Regions from separate parts of the Homo sapiens genome. Here region 2 is linked to region 1. Evidence: fine-mapped expression QTL. A gene starts in region 1. The other region holds a variant in brackets. All regions are shown on one strand. Distances are from middle to middle. Region 1 holds the start of PRPS2 (phosphoribosyl pyrophosphate synthetase 2). Region 2 overlaps PRPS2 (phosphoribosyl pyrophosphate synthetase 2).

The links. PIP is the estimated chance that this variant, and not a neighbour inherited with it, causes the effect.
Region 2: its variant is fine-mapped to the expression of PRPS2 in whole blood (TOPMed, PIP above 0.99).

What each region holds. Positions count from the first base shown.
Region 1 is chrX:12,786,267-12,794,603 of GRCh38, reverse strand. It overlaps PRPS2 (phosphoribosyl pyrophosphate synthetase 2), which reads right to left and starts at 3,192. Exons shown (of 7, transcript NM_002765.5): 1 at 2,985-3,192. The coding sequence starts at 3,106. RefSeq lists a silencer at 2,487-2,936.
Region 2 is chrX:12,823,188-12,831,524 of GRCh38, reverse strand. PRPS2 (phosphoribosyl pyrophosphate synthetase 2) reads right to left here. Exons shown (of 7, transcript NM_002765.5): 7 at 7,303-8,337. It also overlaps the pseudogene PSMA6P2. Among named protein-coding and RNA genes, the nearest start is that of PRPS2, 36 kb to the right of the region's middle. The variant A/G (reference allele first, on the strand shown) is at 3,533.

The DNA of each region.
Region 1 (8,337 bases):
AAAACGCTGAAGAGCGTCACTGACTCAACAATAAACGGGCATGGTAACTAAAAGATAGCCACAGACTCTTAACACATTTCCCATCAAGGAGCAGGGTCTAGTCTCCCGCCCTTGAATCTGAGAGGGCTCTGTACTTGCCCAACAGCATATGACAGAAATTATGATACACCAACTTGCAAGCCCAGTCCTTAATGGACTGGTGGCTTCAATGTCCTGTCTTTTGGAACATGTGCTCTTAGAACCCAGCTTCCATGCTGTAAGGAAGCTCAAGCAGCCCCATGGAGAGGCCTACAAGAAGAGGAGCTGAGGTTCCTAACCAAGCTCCCAGGCAAAAGCTAGTAACAACTTCAGTCATGTGAGCCATCTTCAAGAACCCTCCAGCCCCAGTTAGCCGCCTCAGCTGTGACCAGCCTCAGCTGTGACCATACGCGGCAAAAACAAGCTTTCTTCACTGAGCCCTTCCCAAATTGCAGATTTGTAAGCCAAATCAACAATTACTGTTTTAAGCCATTAAGCTCTTTATTTATTACATGGTAACCGATAACCTTGTATAACTTTGCATAACCTTGTCTCACAGTATAGCTAAAGATTCTGCCAGCAGGTTAACTGACCATAGTAAAATGTTACAACAGAGACATCTAGACACCTGCTGTCCTAAGATGTCATCATGGAATTTCCATGGTCTATAGTGAAGCTGGAGCGGACCTCTCCCTGCATATCTGAAATGATTTAGGGATAAGAAGGTAAAATTGGAAGGCTCTATGTTCAGTAAAGTAGCATATAAAAAACGCAAAATGGGAGGATTGATGGCCAGGAGACAGCAAACCAGATTTCTGATCCTAGTTCAGTGACAGATTCAAGAAGGGGCCCTTACATGAACTGAATCAATTTTGTCTTCATTTTGCCCTTCAGTTTTTCCTCTCTACGATTACACAGCTAAAAGCTGGATTCCTAGCACAGTAACTGGTCCAGAGAGGGCTGTTTATAAAAATTAAGCTCTGTACTTGTACAGTTCATGGAAAAGAGAAAAGTCAGGCAGTGAACCTTTTATACTCTATACATTAAAAACATAAAATGTAGCTATATAGGCAATTCCCAAACTTCATGCTGAGTGGTTTTTGAGGTCCCACGATTTCTAATTATCAAGTGATGGTTATAAAATGCCAAAAACAAAATAAAAGTGAGTCTGCTTTATATTTGAACCAAATGTATAAACAATCATACTTCAGTGTCTGAGTGAGTTTTGCCCAGTGGCACATGTGGTATTTTTAGGAGAAACTCAACACTGACTTAGCAGTGAACTGATCTAGATTAACCATGCTCCTTAGCAAAAGATCATGCTGCACTGAGTACCTGGAAGGGCAACATATTTGCTTTCAAAATTTACTTCATCAACAAATTTCTCCTTTACTTATATGACGACACCTTCTGAACAAAAACTATTCTTCTTCTCGTGTTCTTACAGCGACTGAAACTTGAACAAGACTGGCAAAATACTGCAACACTCAAACCTAGCTCTATCCTTCTCCAGAGCCCTAGACCATCCTCTCAGACTTCTGCATTAAACACTGCAGAGTGGAATTCTTTAGCCAAAGTCCACCTGCCACTCATTCACAATGTTTCTTCGCTTATATTATCATCGGAGCCATAACTGGAATTTGCCACCTGGAAGAAGTCACGTAAGATTCACATATCCTAAAAAGCTGACTTGCCAAAATATAGCATCTTCCCCATCAGTATTAACATAACTCCTCCTTAAGAAATTTTTGCCTAACCCCAAGTCAAGATTTTCTGCTAGAAATTTTATAGTTCTAGATTTTACAATTAGGTCTATGATCCACTTCAAAGTTAATTTTTACAAATGGTGAAAAGTATGGATGGAAGTTCATATTTTTTGGCATATGGGTGTCCAACTGTTCCAACACCATTTCTAGAAAATGTTGGTAAAATTGAACCTTTGCCAAAGATATAAAAATTATCAGTAACTGTGGACAGTTAACGGTACTAGACATTGGAGGAAGAAGGGGGAAAAATGAGACCAATTTGAAATGAGTCAAGGAGCTGTGTGGACTCAGGCAGATAGACAAAGGAGCCCCCCAGGTCAGCTTCCGAGGATGGCCACCACCTGAGGCTCTCCTGGACTTGAGAAATGGGTGAAAGTTACAGTCGAATCACGGCGTTGTTGCTGGACACAGCAGAGTCCTAGAACAAGAAGGAAGCTGAAAGTCCATCATCTTTAAAGCAGCAAGAGTAGTGGGAGCAGAGGGGAGCCCAGCACGTGCGTCCTGGGGTTCTCACAGTCTTTCAAACCTTGGCACAACTGCACCCTCTGGATAACGCAGTGGTCTGCGCCCTGGCTGCTCAGGAGAAGCCAGGGAAGCTTGTAAAATCGCTGATCCTCCGCCCGTTGGATCAAACCCTTGGGGGCAGGTCGGGGGAAGCAGCGTTCGGACCGTCCCCAGGTAAACCCAGCGTGCAACCAGAGTTGGGGACGGGGGGAAACCTTTAGTCGCACGCACTGGTCTGAGGTTCAGCTTTGTAGGGACGCGGAAACTGGGACCAGCCAACCCAGGACGTCTCTCCACCGCGCGCTGACCCGATGCGGTTCCCGCCCGCTGCGCCCACTCTCTCCCCGACGGTCTGTGACCGCCCAGACGTCTCCCTTCCGGGCTGGGGACGCCAGGCCGGGCGGCACCGCTGGGAGGCCGGGAGCGGCTCGGGACCGCCGGGTCGCCGCGGTCCCAGGACCGGAGGCCCTGCAACCGGGGGCACAGCCGAGGCGCGCATCGGGACGCGCGGCGCCCCGCCTCGGTTTCTTCGCAGGCGCGGGCGCGGGGGCGCGGAGGCCGCGTTGCCACCGTCCCGCCCCGGAAGGGGGAGCGCGGCGTCCGCGGAGGTGGCCCGGGCAGGCGCCGGCCCCCAACCCGGCCCCGCAGCCGCGTGCCCAGCGCTCTCCCTAGCCCGGCCGCCGGCGCGGCCCCCACCTGGTCTCCTGGTTGCTGAACTTCTTCGTGACCACCTTGCCCAGCTCCAGGCCCAGGCGGTCGGCCACGCGCTGGGACAGGTCCTGATGCGAGCTGCCGCTGAACAGCACGATGTTGGGCATGGTGGGGCGCGGAACTCCGAGGGGCGCGCGGCGGCGGAGGAGGTGGCGGAGGCAACAGCGACAGCGACGCGGGAGGCTGCTGCTGCGGGAGCGGGAAAGCGCGGCGGCTAGATGTAGGGAAGGGGAGGAGCGGAGGGGGAGGAGCCGGAGGAGGAGCTAGAGGGGGCAGAGAGGGAGGAAGAGCGGGCGTGGAGGGGGAGCTGGAAAGTGCCGGGGGGCGGGGGCACAGCCCTGGCAGCAGTTTTGGACGCCCTGGGTGGTCCTGAAGCCCGAAGGTGTCCTTGCTCCGCGAGAGAGCTCCGAGCTTCATTCTTGATCTTCCAGACCTGCCTCGCGGGGAGAGCCAATGAACCGCGGTTAGCTGGGCACAGAGGGAGAGTTCGGGCCGGGGGGATCCCTCGAGGTGCTTCGCAGCCCGGAGCGACTTCCCACCCCGGAACACCGCAAACCCAGTGTGGGCGACTGGTGTTCAGCTATAGCAAGGGTCTGCAAACTACAGCCTATGGGCCAGATCGCGAGAGCTCCCTGTGTTTGTACCAGAGAGCTAAGCATGGTTTTCATACATGAACATTTGCACTTTATGTGATGATAGCAGACACCGCCTTTGAACTCCAATTAAGAGAAATATCCCCCCCGCAAAAGAATTCCTTTTCTCTCATTAATAGATGTGAGTTGCAAATAATTGTACTCAAATATTACCGTATTTTGGATTATATCAATAAAAACATTGTGACAATTTTTTCTCTCTTGTTATGTAAGTTCCTACGTAATATCTTCCCTTTTCTTGCTTGGTCTGCAAAATGTAAATATTGGCCATGTGGTCCCTCATAGTTCAAACTTGATGACCCCTGAACTACAGAGTTGCCCCTGCACCATGTGTCCTTAAAAAATCCAACCACTATGTGAGTCCTCATCACAGGCTGAGGGGAAGTATTGCTCTTGGTGGCTCACTGGATCAAACCAAGTCCCCCAGATTCACCATTTTTCGGTAGATGTGATGGTCCTTGGGGCACTTCACAACCTTCTGCCTGTTGGGTGCTCAAGGGCCTGATCCCAGGAACACAGATCTCCCTAGACAATCCAGCTCAGTCCCTCCACATCCCTGGAGTCAGGGCCTCCTTCCTCTCTTTCCTGCTAGAAACCAGCAAAAAGGTTTTCTCAAGATGCCAATGCAGTACCAGAGCCAACTTCAGGGCACAAACCAAGTGTAGGAGAAAGGAAAGCAGTCCCTGTCTATAGAGGGCTGGTTGGTGATGCTGGTCACAGTTTCACACTCCTCAACAAAGGCTGATTCAACCGGGTAGATAAATGGCTTGGTTTTACTAATGTTTGCCACGAATTGGCTCTCCATCAACAGCAAAGCCCACTTGCAATTGGGTTGTAGCCTACTCTAATCAGACTTCATAATGGGATTTGGGAGATTACAGGGATGATTCGCATCATTGGGATTTTTCATCTGGGTCCTTGTACTTTGCAAGGAGATTACTTGGCACATCGAGTGTTTCTTGTAAACTTTTGTATCTGCCAGCCTATCAAAAAGTTATTCAAACTGACAATTTTAGCAGCATTTCTGGCCCTTTTTCATTCCGCCTAGAGATGCATATGTGCCCTATTATGTGAGAAAACAAACAAAAACCCCTATCTGCAATGGTTTATTATCTATGTATTTCACAGCTAATTACCATAGCAATGAGATTTATACTTGACCCACTATGTTTAAAATTTTTATTGAGTCTGCTAATGTAGTTATATTTAAACTCTTCTAATAAAATTTACTATCAGCAAATTACTATAATTTTTATATTCTTAATATTTCTCTCATAGATAAAATTGACTAATAATGGTTTCTTCTAAATATATAGATGCTCTTCTCAAAGGGAAAGTGGCATCCTCTTAGCATGATGGGGCTGTGGTTCTTTGGTAACACAGAACCAAAGCTGATGGACTATAAAACAGTAAAAGTTAAAGCCCCTGGTCTTTGGGTGGGTAAATGGCTGCAGATTTGGAAGCTCGGATTGAATTGTGACAAACCATGGACTTGATAGCACCAAGGAGAAACAATATCTCAGTTGGGGCAACTAATACAATGATTGTTGGTTCAATAGTTTGATGAGTTACTCTGCTTAAATGCTAAATGTAAACAAGGTGAAATGTGCCATTGGGGTTGATGAGAATACTAATGGGAATCATTGAAAAATCATCATGAGTCACAGACTGTTCAGAAAGCTGTCACTTGTAAATGAGCAGCTACAGATAATTTTATTTAAGTGTGAAAACTTTCTCTCCCAAATGCCTTTATCCTTGATCCATAGGAGCCAGGTTGTGGGAAACATTGGTCTAGAGCAGGTTTCTGAACCTCAGCACAGCTGATATTTAGGCTGGGTAATTCTTTGTTGTGGGACTGTCCTGTGCATTGCAGATTGTTTAGCAGCCTCCCTTGCCTCTACCCACTAGATGCCAGTAGCACCTATCCACCACTGTGACAACCAAAAGTGTCCCCAGACATTGCCAAATGTCCTACAAGGAGCAAAATCACCACAGGTTGAGAATCACTAGTTTGAAAGAACCCCTGGCCCTTCTCTCCTCCATGTGGGCCTTTCTTCATGGTTGTTTGGGCTTCCTTACGGCATGGCTGCAAGGTTCCAAGGAGTGTTCCAAGAAGATAAGTCTCAATGAGCAAGTGCTTATCAAACCTCTGTTTTTAACTTGCTTGCTAATGTCTCATTGACCAAAGCAAGTTACATGGCCAAGACCAGCTGTCAACATGGTATGGGACAACTGGAGGGCATGAGTACTGTCCACCAACTGTCTACCACAGTGCACTTCTTGAACAACATTTGAAGTTGGGGAGCCTCTGGAAAAATGGAACACTTGTTCAAAGACCCAAGACTTAGAAGAGAAAAAGAACATATACTCTGTGCATATGTGATCTGGGTCTCAGACCGTTTATAAAATATACATTATCTTAAGATAAAATGTTAGTGGAAAAAATTAAAATGATGAGATATTTTCTATTGTTGATTTCTATCTTCATTGACTCATGGATAGAGATTAACGGTAAAACAATGATTTGAATTTATGAACAGTTTCACGTCTTCTATTTCCCACATCATCTAGCCAAGTTCTTTGTATATAGTAAGAAGTCTAAGTATTTGCTGAGTGAATTTATCCCTGACTATTTTAGGGCTGAGAAACGGAAGAAATTTCCCCAAGTCACATGGCTAGTTGAAAGCAGCAAAGGAATTAGAATGTGGATCTTCTAGTCCAGTCCTTTTCTCTCTAGAATGGTACCATCCAAAAGAAATGTAATGATTGTTTCCTATATGTTTCTATGAAAAAATTTTAAACTTTTTAAAAAGAAATATAATGCAAGCCACATATGTAATTTACACTTTAGTAGCTGTATTTTAAAAGAATATAAAAAACAAGTGAAGGTAATTTTAATAATACACTTTAATCCAATATCCAAAATATTATCATTCCAACATGTAATCAACATAAAACATATTAATGAGCTACTTTGCATCTTTTTGTGTCAAGCCTTCAAAATCCAATATAGATTTTACGCTTACAGCACATCTTAATTTGGACTTGCCATATCTGAAGTGCTCATCAGCCACATGTGGCTGATAGTTGCTGTATTAGAACAAGAAGTTCTAGAACACTAGTTCCTAAGAGCAATGCCAAGACACTCTGACATAACCTTTTTCTTGTATGTTTTTATTAGGGGTGTGGCAAATAATTTATAACTTATTATGAAATGCTAACATTTATAAGCAATGTACTTTAAAAATAAGTTAAAATAGATTCAACTTTAATTCTCTATTAATAACATTTTCACTCAGAATCAAGTAATTTTTCTGATTTTTATTTCTAGAACTTTACCTTTTACTTCTGTTGTTTAAAGAAAAATCCAAAAACCGAGATGAAAATAGAGTGAACACCGATATACCCACCACCTAGATTTTGTAGCTGTCAAAATTTTCCCATGTTTGCTTTATCTGTTTTTATCTAAAGTATTTTAAAGTAAATTACAGATGTTATATATTCACCTCTAAATTATTTAGCCTGCATATATCTGTAAAAAGATAAAGACATCACACCGTATGCAAACGTTAATTTAAAATTGATCAAAGACCTAAATGCAAGAGCTAAAACTATAAAACTCTTTTTCTTTTCTTTTTTTCTTTTTTTCTTCTCTTTTTTCTTTTCTTTTTCTTTTCTTGTTTTCTTTTCTTTTTTTTCTTTTCTTTTCTTTCCTTTTCTTTTTTCTTTCTTTTTTTTTTTTTTTTTGCAGAGTCTCACTCTCTTGCCCAGGCTGGAGTGCAGTGGTGTGATCACCGCTCACTGCAGTCTCGACCTCCTGGGCTCAAGTGATCCTCCTGCCTCAGCCTCCCGAGTAGCTGGGACTACAGGTACACGCCACCATACCAAGCTAATTTTTGTATTTTTTGTAGAGATGGCATCTTTACAAAACTACGGAATTCTTAAACTTAAAGCCTAAAACTATGGAATTCTTAAAAGAAAACATAGGTATAAATTTTCATGACTTTGGATTAGGCAAATATTTCTTTAATATGACATCAAAAGCACAAGCGCCACCAACAAAAATATATAAACTGGACGTCAAAATGAAAAACTTATGCTTCAAAGGATACCATCAAGAAAGTGAAAGAAGGCCGGGCATGGTGGCTCACGCCTGCAATCCCGGCACTTTGCGAGGCTGAGGTGGGCGGATCACGAGATCAGGAGTTCGAGACCAGCCTGACCAACATGGTGAAACCCCGTCTCTACTAAAAATACAGAAGAAATTAGCCGGGCGTGGTAGCGCGCACCTGTAATCCCAGCTACTCAGGAGGCTGAAGCAGGAGAATCGCTTGAACCCAGGAGGCAGAGGTTGCAGTGAGCCGAGATTGCACCACTACATTCCAGCCTGGGCGACAGAGTGAGACTCCTTCTCAAAAAAAAAAAAAGAAAGAAAGGCAACCCAAAGAATGGGAGAAAATGTTTGCAAATCATGTATCTGATGAGGGTCTTGTATCTAGGATATATAAAAAATGACCACAACTCAAAAAGACAACCGAATTTTAAAATGGGCAAAGGAGACTGCACATGAATGTTTATAGCAGCTTTATTCATAATTGTTAAAACTTCAAAGCAACCAAGATGTCCTTCAGTAGGTGAACGGATAAACTGTGATACATCCAGACAATGGAAAGCTATTCAGCACT
Region 2 (8,337 bases), 37 kb before region 1:
CAACAACAACAAAACAACAAAACAAAACAACAAAACAAGGATAATGTGATTATTTTGGTGTAAACCTCATTTTGTACCAAAACGCTAGCATTGAATTTTTTAAAGTGAGGTATGATTGCCGTTGTCTTATCCACTTTGTGCTAAAATGCTTTTTTAGTTGTGATTGGGCCAGGGGCCAGGATGAATCTCCTCTGTAACTCTGACCTGAGTCTTCAGGAAAGAAGATTGAGGAAGAAAGTCTTGGTTAAAATAAATCAGGTTGTCAAGCAGGGGTGATTTTGCCCCCAAGGAACATTGGCAAGGTCTGGAGACATCTTTTGGTTGTCACAAATGTGGGATGGGGGTTGCTATCGGCATTTAGTGGGTGGAGGCTAGGGATGCTGCTCCCCCAGGAAAGAATGAGCCAGCCCCAAATGGCAAGAGTGTTGAGGCTGAACAACCTTGAAACATGCTGGGAGGTGAAAGCAGGGAATCTGTCCCTGGGGAGTGTCTGGCCCCGGGGAAATGCTGGTGCTTGGGCTAGTTTGTCCAACCTCCCTCCCGTTTCTCCACCCCCAACACCCTCCTCCAGTTCTTCACATCTGTCTCACCTTCTGCCTCCCCTGCCCCGATTCTGAAATGCCTCCATCGAGGACTTTGGGAATTTTATTGCGGATAAAATTGGCTCTCAGGAAAATACAAGAGAAACATAAGAAACTAATAAATGTGGGAAAAAAAAAGCTCAACAGCAGAAGTATACCAGAATTGGCTTTGCAAACAATGGAGTATCTCGTAGGAGGATCTGGAAGAGATGGGGTCACATACTTTTTAAACAAGTGCACCTTTGTTCTTTTTGCATTTTAATGCTGAATATAGCTGTCTTTGTAGGCTCACAATATAAATGATTCCGATTTCCAATTTTTTTAAATACCAAAAGAATAGGAACACACCAACACAAATACTAAAAGAACAAAGCCTGATATACCAGAAAATCTGGGGAGGGGGATAAAGTGTTGGAATCACTGCTGAGAATTGAACCCAGCAGGCCACATTCCTAGCCTTTTCCTGGTCACCCCACTGTTTCACACACCCCAAATAAATTATCCTGCCTACAGCATGGTGCCATCATACTTCTGTGTTGCTGACATCAAATGATTGTGCATAAAACTACCTGTGTCACTGGGCGCGGTGGCTCATGCCTGTAATCCCAGCACTTTGGGAGGCTGAGGCAGGCGGGTCACCTGAGGTTGGGAGTTCCAGACCAGCCTGACCAACATGGAGAAACCCCATCTCTACTAAAAATACAAAATTAGCCGGGCGTGGTGGCACATGCCTGTAATCCCAGCTACTCGGGAGGCTAAGGCAGCAGACTTGCTTGAACCCGGGAGGCAGAGGTTGCGGTGAGCTGAGATCATGCCACTGCACTCCAGCCTGGGCAACAAGAGTGAAACTCCATCTCAAAAAAACACCAACCAACCAAACAAACAAAAAACGACCTGTGTCAACTCTGAAGGCTAGATTTACATAAGCCTTATTCATGTATTTTATTTATCTCATACTTATATGACAGCCGCATCCTAACACTATGGTATACTAATAGGTGCTTCATAAGGGATTGCTGAGTGTATGAATGAATGAATGAATGAATGAATGAATGAAACAAGACCAACTCCTTCATTTTGCCTGTGGAAGGACTAAAAATATGAATTTTCCGTTTGACATATGTCTAAGCCAAGATGTTCACATGAGTCAAAATACAGAGAAGCAAGTGGTATTTCTCCGATGTATTAAAGTTCCTAATTTATGTACATGTAATAAAACCTCTCCAAAACGCAAGGGTTGAAAGTGTGTTTATGGCTGTACCAATGCACATCAGTGGAGGATTATTGATTCTTCCAAAATAACTCTCGCGCCAACTGGTTTTCCCCAGAGTGCTTTTTAATTCATAGGACTTTTTCTGTGAATTTTGTATTGTTAAAAAAAAAAGTTATTCATCACATTCATTGAAGACACTAAGGAAGACTTCATTCAAGGGGGTCTTTGTGATAGGTTTAGGGACCACAGACTGCAATGGGGTCTTATAGTGGGGGAGAGAGATTAATCTCAGCTCTGACTCCAACAAGGACAAGTGGGGATTTGTAAGCAACGAGCAGGGTTGGGGGCCGTGGATGGAAAACCACTAAGGAAACATCAGGGGTAGGAGGGATTCTTGCTAGATCAACTCAAATAGAATTCTTGCTAAAGGCAAGCCTGGGTGATAAGATATCGAGGGTGGTCAGATACCAAGGGCAGGAGTTTTTTTGATAAACTGACTTCACAGGATTCTTGCTCAAACTAAATTCCACAATGACAGAGAGGGAAGCCCAAGACAGGTCTGGTCAAGGAGAGGATTCAGAGGAGCCTGACTGTTGTTAGGACAAGGAATGAGTCTTGGTCGGTGTTCAAGAAAGAATTGCTCTTTGAATGCTATGAATGCATCCAGGTGCAGAAATTAATGCGAGGTCAGATCACCATTGCTGTGGAGAGGGATCTCTGCCTATCTTTCTTTTGATTCTTCTGTTCCATAGCCTTGGTCCTAAATACAAGGTTTTCTGAGACTTAAAGGAATTTAGGGTTGCACCAGGCATGGTGGTGCACACCTGTAGTTCCAGCTACTTGGAGGCTGAGGCAGGAGGATTGCTTGATACTATGAGTTCAAGACCAGCCTGAGCAATATAGTGAGACCTTCTGTCTCAAAAAAAACAGGAAAGAGAGAGACAAAGAAAGAGAGAGAGAGAGGAAGGAAGGAAGGAAGGAAGGAAGGAAGGAAGGAAGGAAAGGAAGAAAAAGAAAAGAAATTTAGGGTCGCTCCTTGGTTCCTTGGGTGAGTAAATGTCAATGGCACATACTGAGCTTATCCTATGGTAAATGTACATCAAAATATGCCCAGAAATAATCATTAGGATGATTTTAAAGAGTGACGTGTTCAGTTTTAGTTCTTAAAATATGTCCATAATTCATGGTCAGTCTTAGCTTCCATGCAAGAAAATACTAGATTTAGCACTCCTTGTGTAGGGAAAATCAGAGCATCATACGTCCTCAGACACAGATGGCCATGCCCTCACAAATGTTAAGAATCTCTCAATGTGCGGAAGGACAACGTACATCAGGTAACCTTCAGAGCACTCTGCCTTCTGCCTGGACTGTTCCCTGGGGTCTCTGAAGACCACTTATGGTGTTAAAGGTAGCTGTGCCAAAGGACTGGCAATCAAGCCAGGCTTGAAGGTGTTTTCTAAAGGTGCCCCTGCTTTTTCTCTCTGATTTTGTGACTACAGCTCTTGAGCTTCTATAGTTAGTTGAACAGATTTTAAAAGACCTGTGATACCACAGGTGCCCTGCACATTGTTGGGCTCATCATATAGCCTGCTTGTTTTTGCAACCAGCACAAGATCAAAGCCATGCTCGTGGGATTCCTTACCAAGGTAGTGCCGGGGATGCAGAACTATCCACCTTAGAAGAGGGAACGGGAGACCAAACGTCCTGGTTTGCCCAGGACTGAGGGGTTTCCTAAGAT[A/G]TAGGTCTTTCAGGGCTAAATCGAGAAAAGTCCCACGCAAACCAAGACAAGTTGGTCACCCTATTGAGAGCAACCATCTGTGCCTTCAGTTAGAACTATTCCAACTACATCTAGCATAAATGGCATTGCCTATTAAAACTGCTGGGGACTTCTGCAATCATCTTTCCTCTAATTTTTGCAGAAAGATGCTCATACCCAGAGTGGTGTACACATTTTTCCCAAGGTCACCCAGCTTGCTAGCAGCATATCAGGAACCAGAATCTAGATCGCCACACTTCCAATTTAGGGCATTTTCCACTGCATTATGTTTTTCACTTTCCTATTCTCTTTTTTTATCACTCTCTTAAAATGTAAAATTCATTCAGCCAGGTTTTCTTTTGGCCACAGAACTCGGCTGTTAGGATAGTGAAGACTGTTCTTCCCATTTATATTGGGCACCACTTTTGGTTGTATTTATGATGGGATGGATGGTGAATGAGGGCTACAATGAAATCAGGTTGTTGTAAATGACCTCAATTGATTACCATCTCTATAATCACATGACATTCATTCCTACCTGTTGTTTCTACAGCCCACTGGAAGTATTGTTGTTGTTTTTAAGAGACGGGGTTTCTCTATGTTGCCCAGGCCAGTCTCAAATTCCTGGGCTCAAGCAATCCTACTGCCTCAGCCTTCTGTGTAGCTGGGATTACAAGAATGCACCACGGCACTCAGCTGAAAGTTGTTGCTGTTGTTGTTGTTTGAGACAGTCTTGCTCTGTTGCCCAGGCTGGAGTGCAGTGGTGTGATCATGGCTCACTGCAACCTCTGCCTCCCAGGTTCAAGTGATTCTCATGCCTCAGCCTCCAAGTGGCTGGGATTACAGGCATGCGCCACCATGCCTGACTAATTTTTGTATTTTTTAGTAGAGATGGGGTTTCACTATGTTGGCCAGGCTGGTCTCAAACTCCTGATCTCAGGTGATGCACCTGCCTTGGCCTCCTAAAATGCTGAGATACCAAAAGCATTGCTTTTATTTATAGAGTCCTAATCAATTCAGTAGTAGGAGGAGTGGGAGAGGCTCCTTTTTCAATCCAGGGACCTCCATAATGTTGTTTTTTTTGTTACCAAACACACAGGTAAGTGGCATCATGGATTTGGTAAACTAACAACAATGTGAGTGCATCAATCTCTGCTTCTGTAAGAATCCCGACTTTAGGATTTTCAACTGTCACTACTCCAACTTCTATTTCTGAAGGTTTGAAATCAATTGATAGAACAGTAGACAGGCATGTAATTGCAGTTTCCACTGTCTGTTCAAATGTCCAATCAAATTTCTTTTGCACTTTTTTTTTTTTTTTTTTTTCTGAGACGGAGTCTCGCTCTGTCGCCCAGGCTGGAGTGCAGTGGCGCGATCTCGGCTCACTGCAGGCTCCGCCCCCCGGGCTCACGCCATTCTCCTGCCTCAGCCTCCAGAGTAGTTGGGACTACAGGCGCCCGCCACCTCGCCCGGCTAATTTTTTGTACTTTTAGTAGAGACTGGGTTTCACCGTGTTAGCCAGGATGGTCTCGATCTCCTGACCTGGTGATCCACCCGCCTCGGCCTCCCAAAGTGCTGGGATTACAGGCGTGAGCCACCGCACCCGGCCCACTTTTTTTTTTCAAGGAAGCTGGTTAACTCAGTTTGTTTAACTCCTGCTGCAGTGGCTTTAAATCACAGCAGTAACCTGCAGGATCATACTTTCACACCTGAGGGCCTTGTTCTTCATCTATACCAATGAAAATCATACAACCAAGAGACCTCATTGTAGCATTCTGAGTAGTATCAGCAATTCCACACAGAATGTCCACAGGAATCTCATAGCCGTACTTGTATTTCCAGTTAGCTGCCCCATAGCGTGCCCTCTGTACCTCTGTCATTCCGGTCATCACAGTGACAGCCAATGTTTTCAGTTATTTTGAGTAAGTGAGTCACTGTGCTGGAATCCGATAATTTGTCAAGCATTTCTTCTGTATGATAATTACAGCAGTCTTTTCCTCTGACAAATACTGATGGAAGGCCACCCAGGTTAATAGCCTTAAAAGCATATGCATATTCTACTTGGTAGTGCTGGCCCTCGGGCGAAAAAAATGTTAATGTGGTGGGCAAAACCAGCGCTGGAACCACGGGACATGCTGGTAGAACCACTACTTTCAGCATAATCAAGTTTTTTTTTTTTTTTTTTTTTTAACATGCAACTATTTGTCACCTAAATGCTACCCTTCACTGAGGCAGTCACATGCCAAGACAATGTAGCCCTTCTAAAATGGCAGGAGGGCAGTCTGTTCCCCTCTAGGATGAACACCTAGAAAATGCATGAAAATCTTGCCTCTTCATACCTTACATTCTTTCTAGGGGAGTTTCAGGAGGCTCACTCTAAAAACTGAAGTTAATGTACAAACCAAGCAATTCTAAACACTTTACACATAACGTCTCATTTATTATCCCCATCTCACATGTAAGGAAACTGAGGCATAGGGGTTAAGCAACCAGCCCAAGGTCGTTGTTGCTGTTGGTTTTTAAACTCCGGTAAGTGGTGAAGTCTGTGTTCCTGGGCATTATGCTTTCAGAATAGGAAACAGAGCTCAAAGACTGCAATAAAGGAAACCACCCAGGATGTGATCTTGGAAAGCAGGGGCAGAAAAAAGGTGGAGGGATGTGTTCCTGGGGCACAGGGAGATAAATCAGGAAGATAAATATTGGTAATGAGAAGGAGGAGCCCTGTTGATTTCACGCAATTTAGATACAGGATAGCTGAGTATGTTTCAGCCCCTAACTCCCATCTTCCCTGGCACATCCTTGCTCAAACACATCATGTACCAAACGCCCTCTGCTGTCCTGCGTCAGTCCACACTGGAACACACCATAGGGTTCTGGAAAATTCCGACGTGAACCGTCTAATGGTGATCACCGAGCCCTTCCTGGTATCCCCAGCGTGATTCCAACCTCTGCACGCCTTAGTACTCCATCTTTCCCTTCACTACTTCCCTGTCCCCTGTAGTTCAGCTAGGGGATTAGATAGGACATGCCATAGGAAATGAAACGTCTCTGAAGAGGTGTGGCAGCATTATTAAGTGCAATTGTAAAGCTGATGAAGTGTCTTTGGCTTTCACTTCTCCTTCACTTCCCTCCTTTCTAGTACATTCTATCATGTTCTCTCACACTGTGATCACCTTTTTTCTCAGATGGACCTGGATGTAATTCTTCATATTTCACTGTGACTTCAAGACACCATGTTGCCATTCTTAGTGTTACACATACTTTACAGCTGAGCTTCACCAGGGGAACGTAATTATGACTTGACTTTGCGCTCACGAGAGTAGTTTGAAGTATCACTGAACAGGCTGTTCTATGGGGACAGGAATCCTCCTCGGTGCTTCTGAAATCAATGAATATGAACAAGTTTTATGCAGCCTACATTTAAGTTTGGTTTGCTCCAATAGATGGATATTGAACATCACTACTCTGATGCGTGAACACACTGTACCATCTTTAATTTTATAGGAAACATGTGGAATTAACAACGTGGACACCTTATGTGGCACAGCTGTTACGCTTTGAGGAAAGGCGATTGCTGGTAAGTTCTTCAGGAAGAAACACCTTCAAAATGGAAAACAGCTGACATCAATTAACTTCTGGCTTTTCTGTAATTTTGTATGCTGGCCTATAATCGTAAAGTAGCAAACATTTTCAGGTACTGCAACACATCACTCCGTCAAAACATATTACTCCACAATGATACATACAAACTATGAACGCAGTCAGAATGATTTTATTGAAATGTTTTAGTACAGTGTTAGAGGATCTTAAAATCTTACATTTTAAACCAATACAAGCACTGCAAATGATATACTCCTGAATCTAGTTGATGTAGTATCTAAAAAGAAAAGTGATCATATGAGTATCTATAAGTTGACTAATGTAATTTAAGTTGGAGGCTAAACAAACAACTTTGGTATATTCATATTTCTCTGGCTCCTGTTTTTGGCCAGATAAATGCCAGGTCCACCCCCATTCAGTAGAATTGGACAGGACCAATGTATTTGGTGGTCTCACTTAAGTTTCCACGCCAGGAGCAGCAAGAAATGTACAAATTTTGGGATTAAGCTGCTCCCAAGACAGTCTTCATCACCTTTGTGAACTGGAAACACCAAATAGTCAAGGTCTGAATTTCCATTGTGTGTGGCTAAGTCCAGTCGCATTGGTTCATAAATGTATTCTGAAGGATTTTAAAATACAAAGGTGGGGCTAAATAATGATAGAAACCATCAGTTCTTAATTCAGAGAATGACAATGCAGGTTCCTATATCCTTTTTAAAAATCTGAGATCATTATTTTAAAACTAGCTCTATACATTCTTAGGCTTTAAATTTAATCTTAGCTGAAATGATTACCTTTAAGTCAGTTGGCTTTAGGCCTTGGCGATTGCTCAATATAATTTTGGAATTTTAGGATGCAGCATTTCAGGTAAGTGACAGTTATGTTTTAGAAGAGGTCATTTAAAAAATGATCCAGAAATACACTGCTCTGATATGTCTAATGTATACCCCCCAAAATGTGTCAGTGTCCATATTAAGCTAAATAAAATTTGGTCCAAATTAAGCACAGTAACCAAGATGGTTTATCTGAAACTGAGTTATCCAAAAAAAAAAAAAAAAGGAAAATTCAAAATCCATGGTATTATAATTATAAATTTTCCAAGGTTCACTCCAAAGTAAAAGGATAATTAATTCTATACAGGGTTTTACCCAAATGTCCATAGGCATTATCAGTATATATTTACACAG